Homo sapiens: one gene and its partners. The protein of the gene in region 5 purifies or fractionates together with the protein of the main gene of each other region. This does not show direct contact. Each region holds a gene or a part of one and is shown on either strand. Other genes may lie near its edges.

What was found.
Region 1: the proteins of VWA2 (region 5) and RIC8B purify together in Homo sapiens (affinity purification with mass spectrometry; one large-scale study listed by BioGRID and IntAct). This does not show direct contact.
Region 2: the proteins of VWA2 (region 5) and WDR73 purify together in Homo sapiens (affinity purification with mass spectrometry; one large-scale study listed by BioGRID and IntAct). This does not show direct contact.
Region 3: the proteins of VWA2 (region 5) and CCZ1 purify together in Homo sapiens (affinity purification with mass spectrometry, with the first as the bait; one large-scale study listed by BioGRID). This does not show direct contact.
Region 4: the proteins of VWA2 (region 5) and MTR purify together in Homo sapiens (affinity purification with mass spectrometry; one large-scale study listed by BioGRID and IntAct). This does not show direct contact.
Region 6: the proteins of VWA2 (region 5) and TCP11L1 purify together in Homo sapiens (affinity purification with mass spectrometry; one large-scale study listed by BioGRID and IntAct). This does not show direct contact.
Region 7: the proteins of VWA2 (region 5) and CCZ1B purify together in Homo sapiens (co-immunoprecipitation; one large-scale study listed by IntAct). This does not show direct contact.

Annotation. Positions count from the first base shown.
Region 1 is NC_000012.12:106,886,182-106,889,681, forward strand, and holds the end of RIC8B (chaperone Ric-8B), read left to right. Parts: 3' UTR 1-3,135; downstream 3,136-3,500.
Region 2 is NC_000015.10:84,638,785-84,641,534, forward strand, and holds the end of WDR73 (integrator complex assembly factor WDR73), read right to left. Parts: 3' UTR 501-2,750; downstream 1-500. UniProt on the Homo sapiens protein: Component of a multiprotein complex required for the assembly of the RNA endonuclease module of the integrator complex. Associates with INTS9 and INTS11 in the cytoplasm, stabilizing the INTS9-INTS11 heterodimer and blocking the active site of INTS11.
Region 3 is NC_000007.14:5,924,892-5,927,050, forward strand, and holds the end of CCZ1 (vacuolar fusion protein CCZ1 homolog), read left to right. Parts: intron 1-740; coding exon 741-796; 3' UTR 797-1,476; coding exon of another isoform or gene 1,477-1,657; 3' UTR 1,658-1,659; downstream 1,660-2,159. Other genes in the region: RSPH10B (radial spoke head 10 homolog B), read right to left, coding at 1,477-1,657. UniProt on the Homo sapiens protein: Acts in concert with MON1A, as a guanine exchange factor (GEF) for RAB7, promotes the exchange of GDP to GTP, converting it from an inactive GDP-bound form into an active GTP-bound form.
Region 4 is NC_000001.11:236,850,792-236,854,291, reverse strand, and holds part of MTR (methionine synthase), read right to left. Parts: intron 1,772-3,500; coding exon 1,655-1,771; intron 1,345-1,654; coding exon 1,204-1,344; intron 1-1,203. UniProt on the Homo sapiens protein: Catalyzes the transfer of a methyl group from methylcob(III)alamin (MeCbl) to homocysteine, yielding enzyme-bound cob(I)alamin and methionine in the cytosol. MeCbl is an active form of cobalamin (vitamin B12) used as a cofactor for methionine biosynthesis.
Region 5 is NC_000010.11:114,291,254-114,294,989, reverse strand, and holds the end of VWA2 (von Willebrand factor A domain-containing protein 2 precursor), read right to left. Parts: 3' UTR 501-3,736; downstream 1-500.
Region 6 is NC_000011.10:33,070,572-33,074,050, reverse strand, and holds the end of TCP11L1 (T-complex protein 11-like protein 1), read right to left. Parts: intron 1,578-3,479; coding exon 1,375-1,577; 3' UTR 501-1,374; downstream 1-500.
Region 7 is NC_000007.14:6,809,276-6,812,775, reverse strand, and holds part of CCZ1B (vacuolar fusion protein CCZ1 homolog B), read left to right. Parts: intron 1-712; coding exon 713-824; intron 825-3,500.

The DNA of each region.
Region 1 (3,500 bases), on a different chromosome or scaffold from region 5:
TGTGATATTGAGGCATTCATACAGAGCTGCAGTTAGACGGGGTTACGGGGGCTAAAAGCAGAAAAAAAATTCCATTTCATCGGGATGGAACTGAAGGATTTTATTCTATAAAGCGGCCCTGGTTGAATCTGGCAATTCTTTTTGCCAAGATCCCTAGCAGAAGATTTAGCCATGTCCTTCCCCTCACTTGTGTGAGTGGCCCCTTCTGAATCTCTCCAGCAGCCAGAGGCACGTGAGAAGCAGAAAGAGCTGGTAAATAAAGCCTTGGGCAAGCGACTTCTTAGATCAGAACTCACCAAATGGAAGCCTAGCAGCTGCTCCATAAACCTAGCCCCATTCTTCATATCAATTTTGTATAAATATATAGAAACACACACACAGCCTCAGACTTACAAACTGATTATACTCTAAAAGTTTGTATGTCAGTTAGCTAAAACTTCAGAATACATTTCTCCCTATAAAGAGTTATAAATGATGGTTTAGTTCTCAGGCAGCTACAAATGCCTATTTATTCCCTAATGTACCTGAACACTAGTACCATAGAACTGAACCACCATCTGTATCAGCGCATGGGGAGTGTGCATTCTGAGGTCTAACCCGGGGTGCCAGGAACACACACATCCTCCATCCCAGCATAGAGAATGGGGACTCCCTGAGTAATGGGAGTTCTTTCATGGCCTCTGCTTGGGGTGGGGGAGTCAGCAGCACCCATTTGTACATATAGGTCATTCATACATCACATTTTAAATTGGGGACTGTGTGTGCTGGTGTGTGTGTGAGTTCTACGTTTCTACCATATGTGATCAGTTTAATAGTAACTTTATTTATTTAAAAAAAAGAAACACAATTAGTTACTGTTAAACTGATAAAGGGTGTTTATTTTTACTTTTAGAATTGGTCCTATGAAGAAGTAGAAAGTGAGTCATGCACTAGACAGTGGGCCTAGCTCATCAGTGGCTAAAGTTGAAAAGGGGTTGGTTTCCTGTATATATATGTATGTATATACACACGTACATACATTCATATATATACATATATACATAATGTGCTTAACCACTGCCTTTTAAAACTTTAAATTAAATAAAACATTGGGGTTGATTCAATTTGGCCATCTGTGTGTGTTTCTTTATAGATACATGGGCTAAACAATACTATTTCACAGTTTATGCTTTTTTAAAGTGCTTTTACATCCATGGTCCCACTTCTAATAGCCTTTTTAAGGACAGGTAGAGTACATGGAGGGTTACTGAAAAGGTCATTTATCCAGAAGTTACCTCTCTGGCAAAGCAAAAAAATCAGGAATTACGTCTTAAAGGCCTTTCAGCTGCCAGAGGAGATGTCACAAAGTTTCTTGCAACTTACTTATGGGAGAGATCTTCAAGAATATCACTCTTAGACTCTGAACTGAAATTTGCATACGCTTCCAACATGTTTTATTAGCTGGCTTTGAAGCTCACAAAAGAATGGCAAAGAAAGAGGCTGCTAGATTGAAGGCAGGCATACTGAAAGAAGAAAAAGGCCAACTGAAAACTAGATAGTGAGATGAGAAGAATAAAACTTCAAGACATAGCAAATCTGGGACTGTCTACTTACCAAAGGATACTCTAGTTGACCCAGAAAATGTGTGTACAACAGTATGGCCCGTAGACTACTTCCTATAATGGTGACCCTGAGTTTTTTTAAAAGAAGAAATTAAATCCAGAACGCTTTATAAAAGGGTAGGAAGAAGACAATAGATGTTAGAATTTCATCCAAAATGTTTGAGGGAGAGGTGAGTGACCCAGGTTTTAACCAACAGCAAAAGAAATGGGCAATTCATAATTTTAGATTAAGTGAAAAGTTTAGAAAAAATTTAAGTATTTTTGTTATTCTACAAATGCATTTTTAAAGTATTTTTATAATTTCTATAATCAAATAGCTTTGGCATGCATGTCAGCTTACCTAAATGAAGATGTGTTTAATGAAATGCCATCTTACCAGCTTTCTTTATGCAGAGTAAGTGTTTGAACAGTCCTGTTTCAGTAGCTGTGCTCTTCTGCTTTCAGTGAGTTCTGTTTCATTTTGCATTTCTCTGCACTGGGCACTAAGCTTTGTTTTTGAAAAGAGAGTTTGCGGGGAAGAAGATGAGAGTGTCTTCATCTGGCACACAGAAAGAGAACTAATATCTGTTAAGTGCTTACTACATGCTGGGCTTTTGATGTATGTTATCTCATGTAACCTCACCTTATCGCATATGAAAGATCCTCTCCAGAAAGCTTATGAAAGTTACCCCACGTCACAGCAAGGAAGAGTCCAACTCTGGTGGCCTGACTCCCAGCACCACTCCTTCCTTTTCCCCACAGCACACCTGGGCCCACACTGTGCCTCCTTAGGGCTCTGAAATGCTGGGAACAGAGTGGTGTGAGGAGGGTGGTCATTCTCAGGCCATTTTAAGCAATAACTATTTCAACAGAACTAGTTTAAAGAGGTTTTTAAGCAGGGAAGTGACCTGAAGTGGAAGTATGAGTGGGAAACTTGCATGGTCAGCACTGGATTTCCAATGAAGACCTGGAATCCGTTAGGATAGGCCAGGGACCAAGGCTGCAGGCTGGCCTCTCTGCCCACAACTCTCCTGACCTTGGAAGCAGGGTACGGAGGCGTGTGTCCTAAAATAAAGCATTTGAGCTGCTGCTACAGAGGAACAATCACCAGATATTGTGACCCTTTCAGATGCCCAGTAGTCCTGGGAGGCAGGCAGGGCAGGTGTTATTATCCCTTCTTTATAAATGAGGACACAGAATGAGGCAGTACAAGTGACTCTAAACACCCCCTTAGTGCCACATCAGTCTCGCCACCTCCCAGGACTAGGTGTCACCTGTATTGACCTCTTCCCCTCTGATTATAAAAGTAATATATGTTCATTGTGGAAAGTTTGGAAAATGCAGAAAATAAAATTAATAATTTACCCCAAATCCCACCATCCTGAGATCATCACTGTTAATGTTTTAGTGTATTTCCTTCCTGTATTTTTTCTATGCATATATAATTTATTTTACTACAAGATTGGGATCATGCTGTATTTACAGATTTGTATCCTGCTTTCTTTAACATATTGTGAGCATTTTCCCATGTCAATAAATATTCTTCAAAAAGTAATGGCTATATGATATTCCATTATGTGAATTGTGGCAGACACTGCTAGTTTCCTTCCCAATATTCTTTCTAACAGAAGACATCATGACCACCACGCCCATAAAAAAAAAAAAAAATTTAAAAAGGTGGTGCCTGCTGCCTTTCTAGAAGGCAGCATGAGTTGTTAGTGCTGAAGAGCAGCAGGAACTAGGGGTGGCACCAGGAGGAGCAGGCTTGCTCTGCCACACAGCAACAGTCTCACAGAAGCCTCGGCAGCACAAGTCAGAACAGCTAGAGTAAGTGCCCCGATAACTATAGTTTTTGTCAAGAAGAGTTATTTGAAGGGAGCGAGGGAGCCAGGTGACTTAGAAAAGTGCATTAAAAAAAAA
Region 2 (2,750 bases), on a different chromosome or scaffold from region 5:
TGAGTCTCATTCTATCACCCAGGCTGGAGTGGAGTGGTATGATCTTGACTCACTGCAACATCTGCCTCCCGGGTTCAAGTGATTCTCCTGCCTCAGCCTCCTGAGTCGCTGGGATTACAGAGATGTGCCACCACGCCCAGCTAATTTTTGTATTTTTTTTTTTTTTTTTTGGCAGAGATGGGGTTTCACCATGTTGGCCAGGCTGGTCTTGAACTCCTGACCTTAAGTAATCTGCCTGCCTCGGCCTCCCAAAGTGCTGGGATTACAGGCCTGAGCCACCACGGGGCCCCAGTGTGCAGTCTTTTATCCCCTCAGTCTGTACCCAGTGTGTAGTCTTTTATCCCTCACCCCCCTGCTCCCACCCTTTCCCCCTGGGTTGAATATTTCAAATCTATTTCTTCCTTAAATCTTACTCAAAGGAAATCCAATACCATAGTCAGTTTCACCAAGGATGAATTTCTTGACCCAGAAAGGAAAGCTCATTTTAGGGAGATGGTCAGTTTAGGTATGTGTCTGAATTTTATTTAAGATAGATGAACGTGGATATATAGTTATGCATTTGGGCCTGAATTTTTTTTTCTAGTTGTTCTTTTCACTGAGCTTTCCCAAGAATCCCCCCAGAATTAAAAAAAAAAAATTACTATCTCCTCTCCCTGGCATATAAAATGGTTGGGATTAGATTTACCAAACCATTACATCTCCCTTTTGTCTGCCTGCAAACAGATTTTCCAATCCATAGGCCCAAAGTGAACTCCCACGTGGAGTAGGATGAAAACCCACAGCATCTAGATCTTCAAATTCTGGAGAAAAAGAGAGTGTGAAAGACTGCTCAGTGGCTGGGGTGAGAGTCAAGTCTGGCCAGGTGCTAATCTGGAGAAAAGCCAAGACCTGGAGCGAGCTGGAGTGGCAGGCCCTGGAGGATGAGAAGGTGGCAGGAGTGCACTGGGGATACAAAGAAACCAAGATTTTTCTGGGAATTCTCAGAGGCCTGGATCCACGAAAAACTCCGCACCTGCCATCGAAACCACCAGGTGTACCGGATTATGGCTGAGCAGCTGTGAGAACATGGCTTCCTGTGGACCCTGGAGCAATGTTGCTATCGGTTCAAAAACCTCCTGACCGACTACTGCAAAGCCAGGAGCACCTACACACCAGGCACCAGTGTCTTCTATGATGAGATGGATGCCCTGTTGAGTCTTGGGGCACTTTCTAACACCTTTGATGCCTTAGAGGTGGTAGGAGGCCTTCTTTGGGATTGAGAGGATTCCAAAGGGAACCAGGGCATAGCACTAGAAGATGTGGCGGGATGGTAATGAAATAGTGGAGGAGTCTCAAGAGGAATCCTGGAGGCTTGGTCCCCAGGCCTTGAGGTGGAATCCCAGTGGCAACTCTCCCCCACAATGGACCTCAGAGCAGTGGGAGCGACGCAGTCCTGTGGGAAGCATTCAGGCTCAGAATCAGGAGATGTGATTATTGTCCTGGCTCTGTTATGACTAATTTGGGTCTGGAATGGCCTCATCGGGGGAAAAATTGGTGACAACTTTAAGAAATACTGTTTATATCCCGTCCTCAAATATTGCTTGACTCAACCCTCTACTGAACCAGTAGTCCAGGGTGGCTCACAAAGACCACTTTGAGGCTCTTGCTCTGCTCTTTAGCCAAGGAGTCTCCCTTCCTGCCTTCAGTAACAACATTACAGGAAGAGAGGAGAGAAAGGTAGGAGTTAAAGATCCAGTCATTTGTTTCCATCTAAAGTGCCCTATAAGCCGGGCATGGTGGCGCAAGCCTGTAGTCCCAGCTACTCGGGAGGCTGGGGCAGGAGAATCACTTGAGCCCAGGAGTTGGAGGCCGCAGTGAGCTGTGATCATGCCACTGCATTCCAGCCTGGGCGACAGAGTGAGACCCAGACTCAGCTGAAAAATAATAATATTATTAAAAGAATTTAAAATAAAGTGTTCCATAGATGTGAACCCTGCGTAGATTATACACACCAGTCTGCCATTTAAAAGGTTTGTTGTTCTTGGGCAACCTCTTTAAATACCCTTAGCCTCCATTTTCTCATCTGGACAGTGGACATTGTGATGGTTTCTACCTCCCTGGGCTGTTATGAGGATCCTGACACAGTATTAGCACTTGGCAAACGTTAGTTTTCATTATCATCATCATTATAATTATTATGAAAATAGATAAGGGCATTATCCTGTACCCTCAAAGGAGTAAAAGGGGGAAAATGAGTCATTAAACTTTCTCTTCTGGGAACTAGACCTTCTTGAGAGGCACTATCATTCTCATTTCACCTGTCACTTCCAGACATGGGAGCAGAAAGTGAATTTCAGAACTCCATGTCCCCTCCTGCTTTTCTCTGAGCAGGACTTCCAGTTCCCCAGCCAGATGGGGTCACAATGCTGCAGAAAAGTGAAGAGCTTTGGAATGAAGATCTCCCGGACTTCAAGGAGATTCAGAAAACGTCCAGTGCAGGTGGGAAATGAATGGGAGCTAGCATTCCACCAACAAAGTCAGCCCTGGGATTCTAAACTCGGACAAGCCAGCACTGGTTAAGGGCTGAGGGGAACCAGGCACTCAGTGCACCCAGTTTACTATTCTGTGGTGTGGAAAGCACAGGACTTGAGAAGCAGGTGGCACCCAGGAAAGCCTGTTCCCCTAAGTAAGTTTGAACTTTAGTTACTTGAAAAAAGGTATAACTGAATTATGAGTGTTTATGATTTTATCTTTATTTTATTTTTTTTGAG
Region 3 (2,159 bases), on a different chromosome or scaffold from region 5:
GCGCACTAGAAACATCAGTTAATGCAAGCCTGATCTAAACTGTGAATGTGGTAAGATCAAAATCCTGACCCCTCTGCGGAGCACTTGGTCTGCAGCTCAAGGTTGCTGTCCGTTTCTTTGTTGTTCCATTAGTTGTCCCAGGATGACAACCTTGTGCTTGGTGTGTGTCACCAGCCTTGTGCTTCTAACCCCCTCCCCTGGGTGTCCCGGGCACTTTGCAGTTTCTCAGGCCCCGGGCAGCAGTGTTGATAGGCTCAAAACTCCTGAGGCCTGGTAGGTTTTGTAGGTGGATTTTTTCCCCTCTTCTACTTGTTAACATTTCTTGGCTGGGCACAGTGGTTCATGCCTGTAATCCCAGCACTTTGGGAGACCAAGGTGGGCGGATCACTTGAGGTTAGGAGTTCGAGACCAGCCTGGCCAACATGGCGAAACCCTGTCTCTACCAAAAAATACAAACATTAGCAGGGCGTGGTGGTGTGCACCTGTAGTCCCAGCTACTTGGGAGGCAGAGGCTGCAGTGAGCCAAGATCACACCACTACACTCCAGCCTGGGTGACAGAGCAAGACTCTGTCTCAAACAAAAAAAAAAAAAAAAAATTCTTGCCTAGTCTTCTGGGATTTAAGGTCAAAATCAATGCAAATCTCTCTTCCTAATTTTACCCAAGAAGAATTTAATTATATATCATGTAACCTTTTAAGTGACTGCCTCTTCCTTCCTCACTGTTGTGTCCTTGTTGCAGAAGAGGTCAAGAAACTTTGTGCAACGCAGTTCAACAACATCTTCTTCTTGGATTGACGGATGACGGCTCACCGAGAGCATATCTAAAAAACACTCTGCAAACATTTGGTCACATGCAAGTTAGTGGTCATATGACGGACTGCATTCAGGACAAGGGTAAAGCAATACTTGCTTTGAAGAATCACATTTCGACTCGGTCTGCTGATCTGAGGTTTTTAGATTTTAAATATTTATGTGGAATTAATTAAAGGTAGTTGGCTATATCGCTATCATTTCATTCTTTTGACATTATGTGAATATTTTACTGGAAAATAAGACTAATAAATTGTTAAAAGTTTTTAAAATTCTGGTTTGGTGTTGAGTCTCTCTCCTGCTGCCTATTTATAGATTACACTGGCCACCAGCTCCGTGACCCAGGCTGGAATGCAATGGCTCACTGCAGCCTCAACCTCCTGAGCTCAAGCAATCCTCCCACCTCAGCCTCCCAAGAAGCTAGAACCACATGTACACACCACCACGGTCGGCTGATGTTTTAATTTTGCAGAGATGGGGGGGTCTCACTATGTTGCCCAGGCTGGTCTCGAACTCCCGTAATCCAGCCATGTAGGAAACCTGAGATGCAGTGGGCCAAGGGGTATGTTAAAACACTGTGACGAGTTCAGTGCTAAGAACTGTAATGCTCAGGAAATCTTACAGCACGTGCCATCCTAAGCCTGTGTGTGTGTCCTCGTGTCTCTCTACTTTTTCTTCTTCTTGCTGGTGATGGTCTTGCTGGATGGGGACACGGTCACATCCTCCTTGGGAGGGTCCAGTATGAGGTGAGAGGATGACACGTCTGCCGGCTCCTTGAGCACTGTGATGTCCACCTCATAGTCATGTCTCTTGGCCTCTTCCTCTCTCAAGATGAAGATGTTCAGCCTAAAAGCAAACATGAGAAGGTGGTAGCTTTTTTTATCCCCCTCCAAACTGCAAAACCAGTTTTAGGCTATTTATAGTATACAGCCCTTCATACCTGCATTTCAACAGCATGTGTAAACAAAACTGTAAGTTGCTACACTCTGCCTGAAATAACTGATGCCATGTCGACACAGTCCAAAATAAACTTCTCATCTATCTATGAAAAGAAAATTTTTTCTCGAGACAGACAGAGTTTCGCTCTTGTTGCCCAGGCTGGAGTGCAATGGTGCAATCTCGGCTCACTGTAACTTCCGCCTCCCGAGTTCAAGCGATTCTCCTGCCTCAGCCTCCTGAATAGCTGGGATTATAGGCTTCCGCTACCACGCCCGGCTAATATTTTGTATTTTTAGTAGAGATGGGTTTCACCAGGTTGGCCAGGCTGGTCTCAAACTCCTGACCTCAGGTGATCCACCCACCTCGGCCTCCCAAAGTTACGTGTGTGTGTGTGTGTGTGTGTGTATTA
Region 4 (3,500 bases), on a different chromosome or scaffold from region 5:
GTGTGAGCGTTGGCACAGTGTCTGAACTCCTTTCAGCTTTGTTGAGCCTAAGGCTTCCATAAGCAATTTCAGAAATCTAAGTCTTACTACCAGTAAGGCTGATAAAACAAGGATGTGGTTAATCTCATAGTGTCCTATCCTTCTTCCAGAGCATTTTATTACTCTTCTGTGGAAGAGGCAAAGTTGGCAGTTCTATCAGAGCTAAATTCAGATTCTAACATGGAAAACATTAACAAAGTTGGCAAGAGACACAAAAGCATCCTACCACTTTCTCAACATGCTTTGTGGGAAAAATATCTTCCTTTGCCATCATTCTCTTAAACAGATTAAAATGCAAGTTCTTTTGAGGTAAAGATCTCAACTTTCCTTAAACTGAATTCTAAGAAGAACCATCTACGATAGATACTTCATGTGCCTAGGACTGCGCCCAACATATAAATGAGAAACAAGCTGGTGTTTGAATTAGCTATAATTATACTCATTTTTTACACATCAAATGTGCACAGACCTAAGCCTTGAACTGCAGAACTTTGCCACAGATGGACCAGATCCTAACATAAACAGGTATACAAACCAAAACATGGAACAGTGGGGACCATGTAACACTAACATAGCCACACAAGAAAATCCAGAACAGCTATTTTAAATAATGAGGTAGAAAAATATCAAGTAAAATGGAAATATGTTCCCAGTACACTGCTAAGAAAAAAATATTACCATAAAAGCATCTAGAGTATAGTTCTATTTTTGTAAAAAATGTATGTATATGTACCTATGCATGCATATTCATTTTGCAAAAAGAAATAAAAACTCCCATCACTTAAAGGTTATAACAAAATCTCAAGTGTTTAACTTTGGGTGGTAGGATTACAAGTGATTTTTATTTTCTTCCTTTGCTTACCAGAATTTTGTAAATTTTCTAGAACTAATATGTTACTTGGTACAAGAAAAATTAATTTTACATTTTACAATAAATTTAAAGAAACCTAAGTTCAGAATACGGAAGCACCCTAGGCATGGTCTGTTTACCCTTCCTTGCCCTAGCTACACCACCATCTCTGCAACTCTCTGTAGAAATCTTCAGTGATCCAAATATATGATTCGATATTTGCTTCTATTCCACCATGAAGGTCTACTAACTGTAGGTGAGTAATACATTCAAAGATAGGAAAAATCCATCTATTAGAACACTTGTCTCTCTACCTGGGCATAACGTAAGAGCTTCTCAGTGGCCTCAGGGTCTTTATTCCAGATGAGATCTTCACAGAGCTGCAGAAGTTCCTTATGGATATCATCATACACAGGGAGGTTTCCAGCATTCACTATCCCCATGTCCATGCCAGACTAAGGGCAATACAAATAAAAATGAGAATTTACAGTGATACCTTAAGTCAGCGATCAGCAAACTTTTCTCTGTAAAGGGCCAGAGAGAAATATTTTAGGCCATAGCCTCTGTCACAGCTACTCAACTTTGTAGTTACAGCATAAAAGCAGCCACAGACAAGATACAAATGAATAGGTGTGGCTCTATCCCAATAAAATCTTATTTACAGAAACTGGCAGCAGGCCGGACTTAGCCTGCATGCCACACTTTGAAAACCCCTGCCCCAACTAAAAACTGGTTTCCGCAGGGCTAAGAGTTCTTCTACCATACCTTGATTGCATGGTAAAGGAAAACCCCATGCATTGCTTCTCGAATGGCTTCCATTCCTCGGAAGGAGAAGGACAAGTTGGAAAGACCTCCACTTATTCTGGCTCCAGGTAATGTTTCCTGGCAAAAATTTTAAAATATGAAAAGATTCCCCTTTTTTGCCAAAAACAGCAATCACATCTCTTAAGCTTTATATAGGAGTGGAAAGAAAAAAAAACAAAAAGCATCCGAAGTTCAAAGTAATTCAGAGCTTCTTGTTACTAGACATAGACCAAAGCTTGCCGTATTACAGTATTACAAAGGCGCTGCTTCGTAAGTAGTTTTTCCTACTAGACTCCAATCTCCCTAAGGAGAACACGCGCGTACACACACACACACACACACGCAGAAAGACAAAGAGGAATTCCTTATTCACTGAAAGTACAAATTACTAGAAGGCTTCCATAGCCTAAATGAACAGACTCCCTAGTTCACTATGAACTTGACCGACTATAAAAGGACAAAAGGAAATTGAAGTTCCAACCATACCGATGACAGTATCAAGCATCATCAGGCTTGTGGAATAACAGGAACTTTCACTATTATTGGCTCAAGAATCTAGGGAGACAGTTTGTCATTATCTACTACTATGAGCCAACCACTTCTGGGTCTATGCTACAGAGAAGTTCAGGCATGCATGTCTAAGATACATATATAAGAATACTCAGAGCTGCATTGTTCATAATGTCCAAAAGCTGGAAAAAAACTAGATGTCCATCAACAATAGAACAGTTAATTGTGGTATAGTTATACCATAGAATATTATACATTAATAAAAATGAACAAACAGCTACAGCCACACAGATAAATCTTTAGTATGGAGTAAGAAAAAAACATAAAAATATTACGATTCTATTTTTATTAGGCTCAAAAGCAGGCAAAACCAAACTATATCATTCAGATATTCAGTCAATTCTTACTATTTTGTGGTAGTTATGTTCTTTAAAGTCACTGCAAACACTGAATTAGGGAATACCAGAGCATTGCTCCTAGGAGAAATACAGGGCTAGGTTCCTATGAGCCTCTGATGACATTTTTGTCAACCAATCAATACATAACCTTGTTTTGTGCATGTATGTTAAGATGCTGTATCTAATATTTACTGTTGATTCATTAAGACTGAATTCACAGCCAATGGCACTATAATTCATGTCTGAACAAAGCTTATCTAACACACATATTTCCTCCCTAAGGAACATCACAGCCTTCTTGTGCTTAGAACACTAGACAGCACTAGTATGGGGCCATTTTAAAAAGTGACCTCACCAACAAAACGCATAAAAGTGTGAAAAACATGGCATTAGACTGCAAAAAGGACATCTGTGTACAGGATGAGAGCTGAAATAAGAAGGTAGGTCACTGCCATGTTTGCCCTCTTTGGGAATAATATGGGTTGGGCCACTCAAATTTTCCACCACTCTGCATATGGGTAAGTCTGAACAACTGCAGAAGTGACGTTGAGTATTGATTTTGGGGTCACAAATAAATTTCAGTAAGTACATGAATTTGCAAATATAAAATCCATAGATGATGCAAATCAAATCTACATATATAAGCAATAAATTTATGAAGAAAAGCAACAGAGTAGCGTCATAAAACTCAGGACAATAGCTACTTTATAAAATTGAGAATGAGGTGTAACTGGAAAAGGAGAGACAGACGGGGGCGCTAGCTATGCTCTATTTTGGGACCTAAGTGAAGGCTCTTATATGCTTCATAATTAATTATTTATCAGGTTCTGTGGTTTTTTTGTTTTGCATCATTTTGTTCAAGGCAGGGCCTCACTCTGTCGCCCAGGCTAGAGCGCACT
Region 5 (3,736 bases):
ATCTCTGCCTCATTTCTGGAGGGTTGTGTATCAGTTCTCTAACACTTGTTCCTGAGAACTAAATGTCTTTTTTATTCTTATTTCCTCTCTCATAAACATTTGGTGACCTTTTACCAAGTGGTGAGTTAGTTAGGTTTTTTAAAATAAAATGTTCATTGTATTTGAAGTTTTCCTCAGTTCATGAAATGACTTGGGGCAGGGCCTGGGGGGTTCTCAAGGGAGGAAATGTTTTGGTTATTTACACACTGAACTACAAGATGGGATCCTAGCAGGAAACTCAGCCTCCTTGAATCAAAGAGCATAGATAAGGCTGAAAGCAAATTTTAGTTGTACAGTTAACAACATACCAAAGACACAGGAAACATCTGCAGAAATTGATCATATATAAGTGAATGAAAAATCAGTACTCCTCCCAGAAGTTAAATATACTCCTAAAGAATTCTTGGGAAAAAAGAAACATACCAATACTGGGAAGGTTGCCTAAGTAGTAATTAAGGAAGTTTATAGCATAAATGTGTTTATTTTAAAAATGACAAAATCAAAATCGGGTTCATTAAAGAGACAAATAGACAACCTAAGGCAATATGAAATAGCAGAACTGAAATGGAGGCCTTAATACAGATACTGACAAGATTTTTCAAATTATAAAAAAATACTATGAATATATCAGTGTAAAAGTTTGAGAAATATGTATTTTCCATTATAAGGTTAGTATAGCTCTGATACCAAAAATTCAAAACAAATTGCAAAAGAAAACAAATCTCATTGTTGGACACAGATTAAAAGAATCTGAAATAAGATGTTGGCAAATGAAAAATTCAGCAGGGTTTATAGAATGATGCATAATGACCAAATAGAGTTTATCCAAAAAAATCAAGGGTTGTTCAATGATTGAAAATACACAAATGGATAACCTATCACATTAACAGATAATACAAAAAATGCATTATCTTGAGGAAGAAAAAGCATACCATAAATCTCAACATGTAATAAACACTCTTAGTTCATCTAGGAATTAAGCATTCTTAAACTGATAAGTAACCCATAGAAAACAATTATTATGATGAAAAAGTCAAGAACCAGATATGGATACATGCTACTTCATGAAACATTATTCTGGAGGTCCCAGGCAATGCAAAATGACAAGAAAAAGAAGTGGTATACAACTTTGAAAGGAAGAGACAAAACTAGCATCATTTGGAAATATTTCTCTAGAAAAGCAAGAGTCAATTATTAGAACTAGGGTATTCAACAAGATGACTGGAATCAGGATCGTTCAGAGAAAATAAGGAAATTTATGGCCTATATGCAATGTTTTAATTATTGCAAGGAAAATATATTTCTGTCTTATTTGAATAAGTAATTAAAGGTAAAAATTAAAGCTAATTTCTTTTAAATGAAAGAAAAAAGGCTTGGCTAGTTAGGCCATAGGATAGCACTTTCCTGGGGGACTGACAAAAGCTGAACTATTTAGTGGCACTGTCACTACAAAAGGGGAAAAAATGTTTCAAAGGCGAGAAACCCATTTCCTACAAAGAAACAGTAAAGGCCCTTACTATGTAAGTCGAGAGCCCACAGTTTGCTGTTTAAATCCAAGTAATTCAATCAGGGCACCCAAATACCAGCCCGGAACAAGACAAAAAGCCTACATTATAACATGGTTAAACTGCTATTTAAAGACAATGCATTCATGTAATTTCTATGACATCACTGATCAGCATCTGCTAGGGAGCATGTGATCCTGCCCCGGACGTTGTCTTCTGTGAAGGGCAGCATAATAACAAAGTTATCAATGAAAGTATCCCTTGAATATAGATGATTATGACTCAATGTCTGGTACACCAGACTTTTTAATATCTAAAATCTTGGTGATACTGCTTCAAGCGCTTTTCTAGCACCAGAAATCCTGAAGTTCTTAAAGCCAAAGTACCCTTGAATGTTTGTCTATAAAACATTATGTTACAATATTTATAAAGAAAAATGGGCCAGGCACAGTGGTTCACCCCTGTAATCCCAGAACTTTGGGAGGCCAAGGCAGGGGGATCACCTGAGGTCAGAAGTTCGAGACTAGCCTGGCCAACATGGTGAAACCCTGTCTCTAACTAAAAATACAAAAATTAGCTAGGCATGGTGGCACCTGCCTCTAATCCCAGCTACTCAAGAGGCTGAGGCATGAGAATCACTTCAACCTGGGAGGCAAAGGTTGCAGTGAGCCAAGATTGTACCACTGCACTCTAGCCTGGGCAACAAGAGCAAAACTCCGTCTCAAAAAAAAGAAAAACGATAAAGTGTCTGGAGTCACATCAGAGCTCTAGAAAGATTTCTACAGAAAATCCAACTCTAAACAACACAACCAAGGAGAAGAAGTAATTCCTAAATACTGCAGCGATAGGGAAGTAAGTATCTAGTTTGCCAGAGAATATTCCAAATATGCCTCTTTGCCACATAGGTACAAATATCCCTGTTTAATAAATAACCAACATTTCTTGAAATATTTCTTTAAAAACTGTGTAGAAAAGCAAAGCAAAACAAAATTAAAACCTAGACAGCGTAAGATCAATGCTTTAAAAAGCAAAATCTCTGTAAGTTTCTTTATCCTATATTTTTGAGTTTAAGAATCTTACTTCTCTTTGCCCCACTAAAAGGAGAATAAGGAAAGAATTCCATAAACACGCCACAATTAACCCCTCCTAAGTACATTTTTTTCTTTTTGAGACAGATTTTTACTCTTGTTGCCCAGGCTGGAGTGCAGTGGTGAGATCTCGGCTCACTGTAACTTCCGCCTCCCAGGTTCAAGCCATTCTCCTGTCTCAGCCTCCCGAGTAGCTGGGATTATAGGCATCCACCACCACCCCCGGCTACCTTTTGTATTTTTAGTAAAGACAAACTTTCACCACGTTGGCCAGGCTGGTCTCAAACTCCTGACCTCGGGTGATCCACCTGCCTCAGCCTCCAAAGTGCTGGGATTACAGGCATGAGCCACAGTCTCTGGCCGCAGCCTCTTTTGAAAGGAAGACCCTTCAGGTGGACACTGCTCACGACTCAGAACGATTTTACGTGGCCCCTCCAGACCTGGGCCCATTGCACACTCAGCCCCTCCCCCATCATCAAACAAGCTGGTTAATTGGTCACATTTCAGTCTGAGACCTTTCCAAGTCTCTTCCACACACAAAAGGCAGTCGCCAGAAGTCACAAACGTCCCTCAAGCCCCCTTTCAGACTCAATGCAAATGCATCCAGAATGTCTCTGGGGAAGTGGAAAAGCTGCTGCTTTCCATCTTGAAAGGCCGTGGCCTTCGCCGTCCAAAGGATGCTCTAGTAAAGGCCTCTGCTGGGCATTACTGTGTCAACAACATTCTGGCGAGCATTGATTGTGTGCAAAGGAACGTCAGGCCGCTAAATTTAAGTCTTCAGGACCCCTTGTTTATCCTCAAGGGAAAGGTGGCAGATGACATAGCCTCAACAAGGCACAGCAGGTACAGAAAGTGGGTATTTACTTACACATCAAAACTTTTCAACAACATCGTTTGTGGGTGACATCAGCTGCTTTCTTGTCTCTAAGCAGCATGGCTGCAGTTGGGACATCCTCCTCCCTCAGTGAGAATAGTGGTCCTGGCCACGGCGGGAAGCAGACATTCTAAGGACCTGGGGCACAGACATTCCAGAAGGTAGGCACCATTTCAGTGCCCAGGCCTTCTCTGTAGTTGCTGGGAGGGGTACGGCTGCTGCCCTCCTGC
Region 6 (3,479 bases), on a different chromosome or scaffold from region 5:
GAGATGGGGTTTCACCATGTTGCCCAGGCTGGTCTCAAACTCCTGACCTCAGGTGATCTGCCTGCCTCGGCCTCCCAAAGTGCTGGGATTATAGGCGTGAGCCACCACGCCCGGCTAACTTGTAAGTTTCTCTTAGCTTCCTGTACAGAAGGCTTCAGGTGCCGATATTACTGCATTACTCATACAGTAATATAGTCTTACCCCTTGCTGTTGTGGCAGTTGGTCATTCCAACTTCATGGCTCTGCTTCTAATATAACATCCCTGTCTAAAATGCAGACATACATGTGTACACTTTAAAAAAAAAAAAAAAAAAAAAAAAAGAACAGATCGTCTATGAGACCCAAATCACTCACGCTCAGAGGACATGTCAGGAATTCTGGTCACTGAAGTTCCTTGAAAAATAATGCTCAAACACCAGGGATTTCCTATGACTTCCTCATCTAGGAGATTCGTGAACTCAAGCTATTTTATCTGAAAACAGTTAAATCTAATTCCAGAATTTAATTCAATCATCACATCTGTGTATTGTCTCAGGGTCAATTTTTCAGTAAGAATTCCAGACATTTCTCTTCGTTCACATTACAGTAAACTATTTTTCAATACATTTCCTCCTTGACTTTCAAGGCTTGAAAGTCAAAGACTTTCCTTTCACTAGATCTCATAAGTCATAACTGCTCTCAACCAGATGCAGGAGTAATTTTGTATAAAAGAACAAGCTTTTTAAAGTCCAATAACTGTATCTTTGGGGGAAGGTTAAAAGAATGTTTAAATACAAAAAAGAAAGTAAAAAAAAAAAGAGAGAGAGACAAATAACTCTCCTCTAGAAAAAAGGGCTTGGGAGCCCTGGCTAGGCCAGGCAGGGAGGAAGCAATAAATAGGGGGAGAAAATGGCAATAAGACGTTATATAGCCCTTCTAACAAAAATACCAGAAGGGAGGGGTGAGGGACAAGGCTGTCTGAGGGAGGGCAGGAGGTGAGGCCATGGCTTGGTCTCTTTTGCGCTTGGATGGCCGTCAGCTCAGCATGAGGCATCTGAAAGAACTACCCAGATTGCAGAAGAGAGAGGTCCCAGCCTCCTTGGAAGGACATGATGGGGGAGGAGTGGAGACAACAGCTGAGTGTTACCTGTAAAACTCGAGAACAAAATGCTTCTTTGATTTGTAAACTTGCACTCATAAATACAATCTCTCAAAATAGAATTCAGTGGATTTCTCAACAAGTCTTTTCAACAGTGATACACAATATTCTTCCCTTTGGAATCGGTGCTGTTAAATAGACATGTACTATATAGCCATTTTCCAATGCAACATTAGAGTACAGAACAGGTATTCTGTGGCTAGTGAGTAATACTGCTGCTGTAGGGTGCATACACGTTAGGATCGGACGAGGATCTTACTCAGGATTGCATCGTAGTAGGGACAGAAGACCATCTTGTTATAGTTGACCAGGCGAGCAAATTTAATAGCAACTTCCTCCAGCTCTCTCTGAACTGGACTGAGTCCCCCAGGGACTGTGGGCAATGGCTTCTGATGACCCGAGGCAAGGTAGGTTTCTAAGAAGGTCAGGATTCGAGATTCTGTGACAAAAAAGAAAGTGGTCAGTTGTTTCTTGTCCTTCACCTTACAAACCTTACTGTGCTTCAGTTCTTAGCTTAACCATCACCTCTTAGGGGAAGTTGTCCCCGATCAATACTCCCAGACCAGATACCCACAGCACCTTGCACTTCTGCATATTCATCCCATTTATAATGTTTTCTCTCCCCTCTAGATGGTTAGTTTCATGAAGGTAGGAGCCATGCTCATCTTGTTCATCATGTCTCCTCAGCACTCAGCACAGTGACTGGCATGAGACCCAGCTCCCAGGAGAAGCTCAAACACACTTGGAATGCAAGAATGAATGCATGAGTGGCCAGGCGCGGTGGCTCACGCCTGTAATCCCAGCACTTTGGGAGGCTAAGGTGGGCGGGTCACCTGAGGTCAAGAGTTCGACCAGCCTGGCCATTGTGGTGAAGCCCCGTCTCTACTAAAAATATAAAAAGTAGCCAGGTGTGGTGGCGCACACCTGTTGTCCCAGCTACTCGGGAGCCTGAGGCACAAGAATCACTTGAACCCAGGAGGTGGAGGTTACAGTGAGCTGAGATCATGCCATTGCACTCCAGCCTGGGCGACAGAGCCAGACTCTGTCCCCAAACAAAACAAAACAAAAAAAATGAATGAATGCATGAGTGAGTAAAGGAAGACTGGAGACATGCTCTGCTCTCCGAGGAGCAACACATCCTGAGACCATTGTTAGCCATCGCTGACGATCACATAAAAAGGTGGAAGATTAAAGCAGGAATTACAGGTTCAAAAAAGACTTTTTTCCTACTAAGCCTCCATGAAAGCAGCTCGTGCTTCCTTCTCTGATGCCTGCATGGAAGTCATGGGCATTTGTAAACTTGTCCTACTTGGAGGAATAATTTAGGTTGATGCTTTTCTAGTCCATTCCCCTTCACAATGCTTTTGTACTCTTGTGTATCCTCATGAAAAAAGATTTGATCAAGCCACACTTCTTGCAGATTTTATCACAAAAACAACAGAGACATTTATATGGAATAGACTTTTTCAAACTACATGCCTTGCCTCCTGCCTGGGGAATCCTCTCAGGTGCAAATAACTTATACCCTCCTGAGCCTCACAACACAGACAGAAACTGCTGACAGGACAGGGCCTAACACCCTTACTCTTTTTTTTTCTCGAGACACAGTTTCACTCTGTCGCCCAGGCTGCAGTGCAGTGGCACAATCTCAGCTCACTACACCTCCGCCTCCCGAGTTCAAGCGATTCTCCCCACTCTGCCTCCCGAGTAGCTGGGATTACAGGCGCATGCCACCATGCCCAGCTAATTTTTGTATTATTAGTAGAGGCGGGGTTTCACCATGTTGCCCGGGCTGGTCTTGAATTCCTGACCTCAAGTGATCCGTCTGCCCCCGCCTCCCAAAGTGCTGGAACTACAGGAGTGAGCCACTGCACCCAGCCCTATCACCCTTCTTCTTTTTTTTTTCTTTTTTGAGATGGAGTTTCCCTCGTCTCCCAGGCTGGAGTGCAGTGGCGCGATCTCGGCTCACTGCAACCCCCGCCTCCTGGGTTCAAGTGACTCTCCTGCCTCAGCCTTCCGAGTACCTGGGATTACAGGCACACGCCACCATGCCCAGGAAATTTTTGTATTTTTTGTAGAGACGGGGTTTCACCATGTTGGCCAGGCTGGTCTCAAACTCCTGACCTCAGGTAATCTGCCCACCTTGGCCTCCCAAATGCTGGGATTACAGGCATGAGTCATCACACCTGGCCCTATCACCCTTATTCTTTTTTTTTTTTTTTTTTTTGAGACAGACTTTAGCTCTTATTGCCCAGGCTGGAGTGCAATGGCACAATCTCGGCTCACCACAATCTCCACCTTTCAGGTTCAAGCGATTATCCTGCCTCAGCCTCTCAAGTAG
Region 7 (3,500 bases), on a different chromosome or scaffold from region 5:
TCATTTTGTATTTTTAGTAGAAACAGGGTTTCATCATGTTGGCCAGGCTGGTCTTGAACTCCTGACTTCAAGTGATCCACCTGCCTTGGCCTCCCAAAGTGCTGGGATTACAGGTGTGATCCACCATGCCTGGCCTATTATCTTTTTGGTAAAGATAATATGGACATTGAAATATCTTTGTGCCATCTGATTGACAGTAATCAACAAAGGAAAGTTTGTTGTTTCCAATGAGTTAAAACTTACTTCAGCATACCCTTTTTTTTTTTTTTTTTTTTTTTTTGAGATGGAGTGTCTCTCTGTCGCTCAGGCTGGAGTGTGGAGTACAGTGGCACGATCTCAGCTCACTGCAGCCTCCATCTCCTGGGTTCAAGCAATTCCCCTGCCTCAGCCTCTCTAGTAGCTGGGATTGCAGGTGCCCACCACCAGAACCAGCTAATTTTTGTAGTTTTAGTAGAGATGAGGTTTTGCCATGTTGGCCAGGCTGCCCTTGAACTCCTGACTTCAGGTGATCCACCCAGCTCAGCCTCCCAAAGTGCTGGGATTACAGGCATGAGCCACCACGCCCAGCCGGCCTATTCTGATATGGTGTTTGCCAAATAGCAGCTGGCATCAAAAGCAACTGGTGTGTATGAAGTGGGAGTGTGTTCTGTTTCTAGATTCCTGATTCTCCTTCACCTCGTTGAATCAAGTCATGTCTGTTCTTGCTTTTAAGATTTCTTACCGGACCCTTGAACCTCAATGATCCAGATGCAAAATGCAGATTCCCCAAAATTTTTGTAAATACAGATGACACTTATGAAGAGCTCCATTTAATCGTTTATAAGGTAACAACTGTTTTCCTTCCAGCGTTAATGATTGTGCTGAAATGGATCTTTCTTGCATGTGTACACGAGTGCATGTGCAAACCTCTTAAATGTTTCTTGGAAAAGATATTGGAAGTTCTGATTATGGTAAAACTCAAAATGGGTGTTCTTCCAGCGTAATAAGTTTATTTTCAGCTCCTTTTAAACAGTTCTGTTATTAGTGAAAGAGGAACTGTTTAAGATTGTGATTTATAAACGTGTGAAGTCTCACGTGCTCTCAAACCAAAGGCTGTCAGAGGTTGGTGCTGCCTGTTCTCGAAATGGCTCTGGATGGGGGCCGTAGCCACGTGTCTGTGCATATGCTGCTTTTGCTCTGATTTTAAAGCTGTAGGCTTGCTAATTCCATAAGGATCGTATTTTGTTTCTGTCAGGACATGGTCTTGTAAGGATATGTACTCAGGTTGTGTTTCTAATTAAAGGCAGTTTTTGATTCAAGAAAGAAGACGGAGCATGTGCACGTGTTTATCCTCTTTCCTGCCTGAGGCTGTGGAGAAGTTTTCATTTATAAAGGCTCAGAAATGATGCCGTGGGGGAACAGGAAGGAGCGGGATGTGTCAGGATGAGGGAGTCCTGTCCCTCTCTGGAAGGTAGACGGGACTTGTAAACCATGCCTGATAGAGGGCGGTGCCGGAGCAGGCCTGGAATATGAGTGGCAACCCTGTGCTAAGGCAAGGACCCACAGCCCTGTGGAAGCCCAGAGAGGCTCCTGACTTGGAGGAGGTCACCTGAGGAGTCAGAGTGGGGCCTGGGCCTGGAAAGGTGGGGAAGGGAAGTGAAGTGTGGCAGAGAGGCCAGTCAGCCTCCCCTTCCCCCATCCTTGCACAGACAGGCCCACGGCTGAGCATCCATCCCTGGGTGACAATCGAGGGTCTGTTTAAAGAAAGGAAACAGTCTGAAGAGACCCAGAGTGGCTAACGTGGATGTCTGCCCCTGAGAATGAGGCCCTGCTCATTCTGGCATTTCTTTCTTCCAGACAGAACTGAGACCTTCATCCTACACTCAGAGTGAAGCCTCCATCTCTGGTCAGCCTTCTGGTTCCCTCATTGTTAAATATGGCTGCAAAAACAAAACTAGAGGTCTCGAAAGAAACATGATTCCGAGGACAGACGAGAACTTTAAAAATTAGTATCCACTAATTAGAAGAGTTGTATCTATTAATATAAAATTGAAATGGGCCAGGTGCAGTCCCAGCACTTTGGGAGGCCAAGGTGGGAGGATCACTTGAGGCCAGGAGTTGGAGGCCAGCCTGGGCAACATAGTAAGACCCTGTGTCGACAGGAAAATGTTTAAAAATTAGCCAGGCATGGCAGTGCTCATGTGTAGTCCCAGCTACTCAGGAGGCTGAGGCAGGAGAACCGCTTGAGCCCAAGAGTTGGAGGATGTAATGAGCTATGATCACACCACTGCATTCTAGCCTGGGTGACAGAGTGAAACCCTCTCAAAAATAATGAAACTGGTATCAACAGTTTCATATCCAGCACCAGACATTATGTGACAGTGGAAGAGAGACTTTCAAAGTTCTGAGAGAAAATGAATTTGAGCATAGAGTTCTTTGCCATGCCAAGCTGTCAACCACAGATAAGACAAAAGAAAGACATTAGCCGGGGCATGGTGGCTCACGCCTATAATCCCAGCACTTTGGGAGGCCAAGGTGGGCGGATCACCTGAGGTCTGGAGTTCGAGACCAGCCTGGCCAACATGGGGAAACCCTGTCTCTACTAAAAATACAAAAAATCAGCCAGGTGAGGTGGCGCACGCCTCTAATCCCAGCTACTCCGGAGGCTGAGGCAGGAGAATCACTTGTACCCGCGAGGCGGAGGTTGCAGTGAGCTGAGCTTACGCCACTGTGCTCCAGTCTGGGCAACAGAGCAAGACTCTGTCTCAGAAAGAAAAAAAAAAACACGTTCAACATGAAAAGCCTCAAAAAGTTTACCGTCATGCACCCTTCCTGAGGGTGTTACACAGGGTCATCCGTCAGCAGAATAAGTGAGCACACCAAGAAGGAACACTTGGGAATCCAGAACAGTAGTTCTCATGTGTGAGACGGTACAAGGAAATCTTGGGGTGATAAGGCTCTTCAGGTCTGCTGGCGGCACCCCACCTCCAGCAGCTCCGTGACAGCAGGAGGAGGGAGGGCTCTAGGGTTCAAGCCGCCAAGATAAAAAGATGTTTCATTCATCACATGGTGTGCTTGAGAGTCACTTAAAGTTGGGCTGTGACAGACTGGCAGGGAAGGGGAGATTGCAGGCAGAGCATACAGAAAGATGTGGTCTGAAAAAGCAAACCAAAATGTTGGAGGTGTAATTCAGAGCAGGAATTGGAGTAGGAAGAATGTCCGTTTGTGTATCGAGTGAAAGTTTGAGACCCCATCTCAAGAAAAAAATCATCCTCCTTTGAATGACCCAGGTAATGACTGAAATCTCCATAACCCTGGTGTGTAATATGCTGTCGGCTGCATTTCTATTTTTAGAGTCAATCTACAGACATATTGTGGGGTGTGATGATGGGGTTGTGGCTATGTTAAAGGGTCCTTACCTTTTTCTTAATGACTTTGAGATACAATGCACGTACCATACAACTCACCCTCCTACACTTAAAATGTACAGTTCAGTGATTTCTAGTTGCAAAGTTCATGAG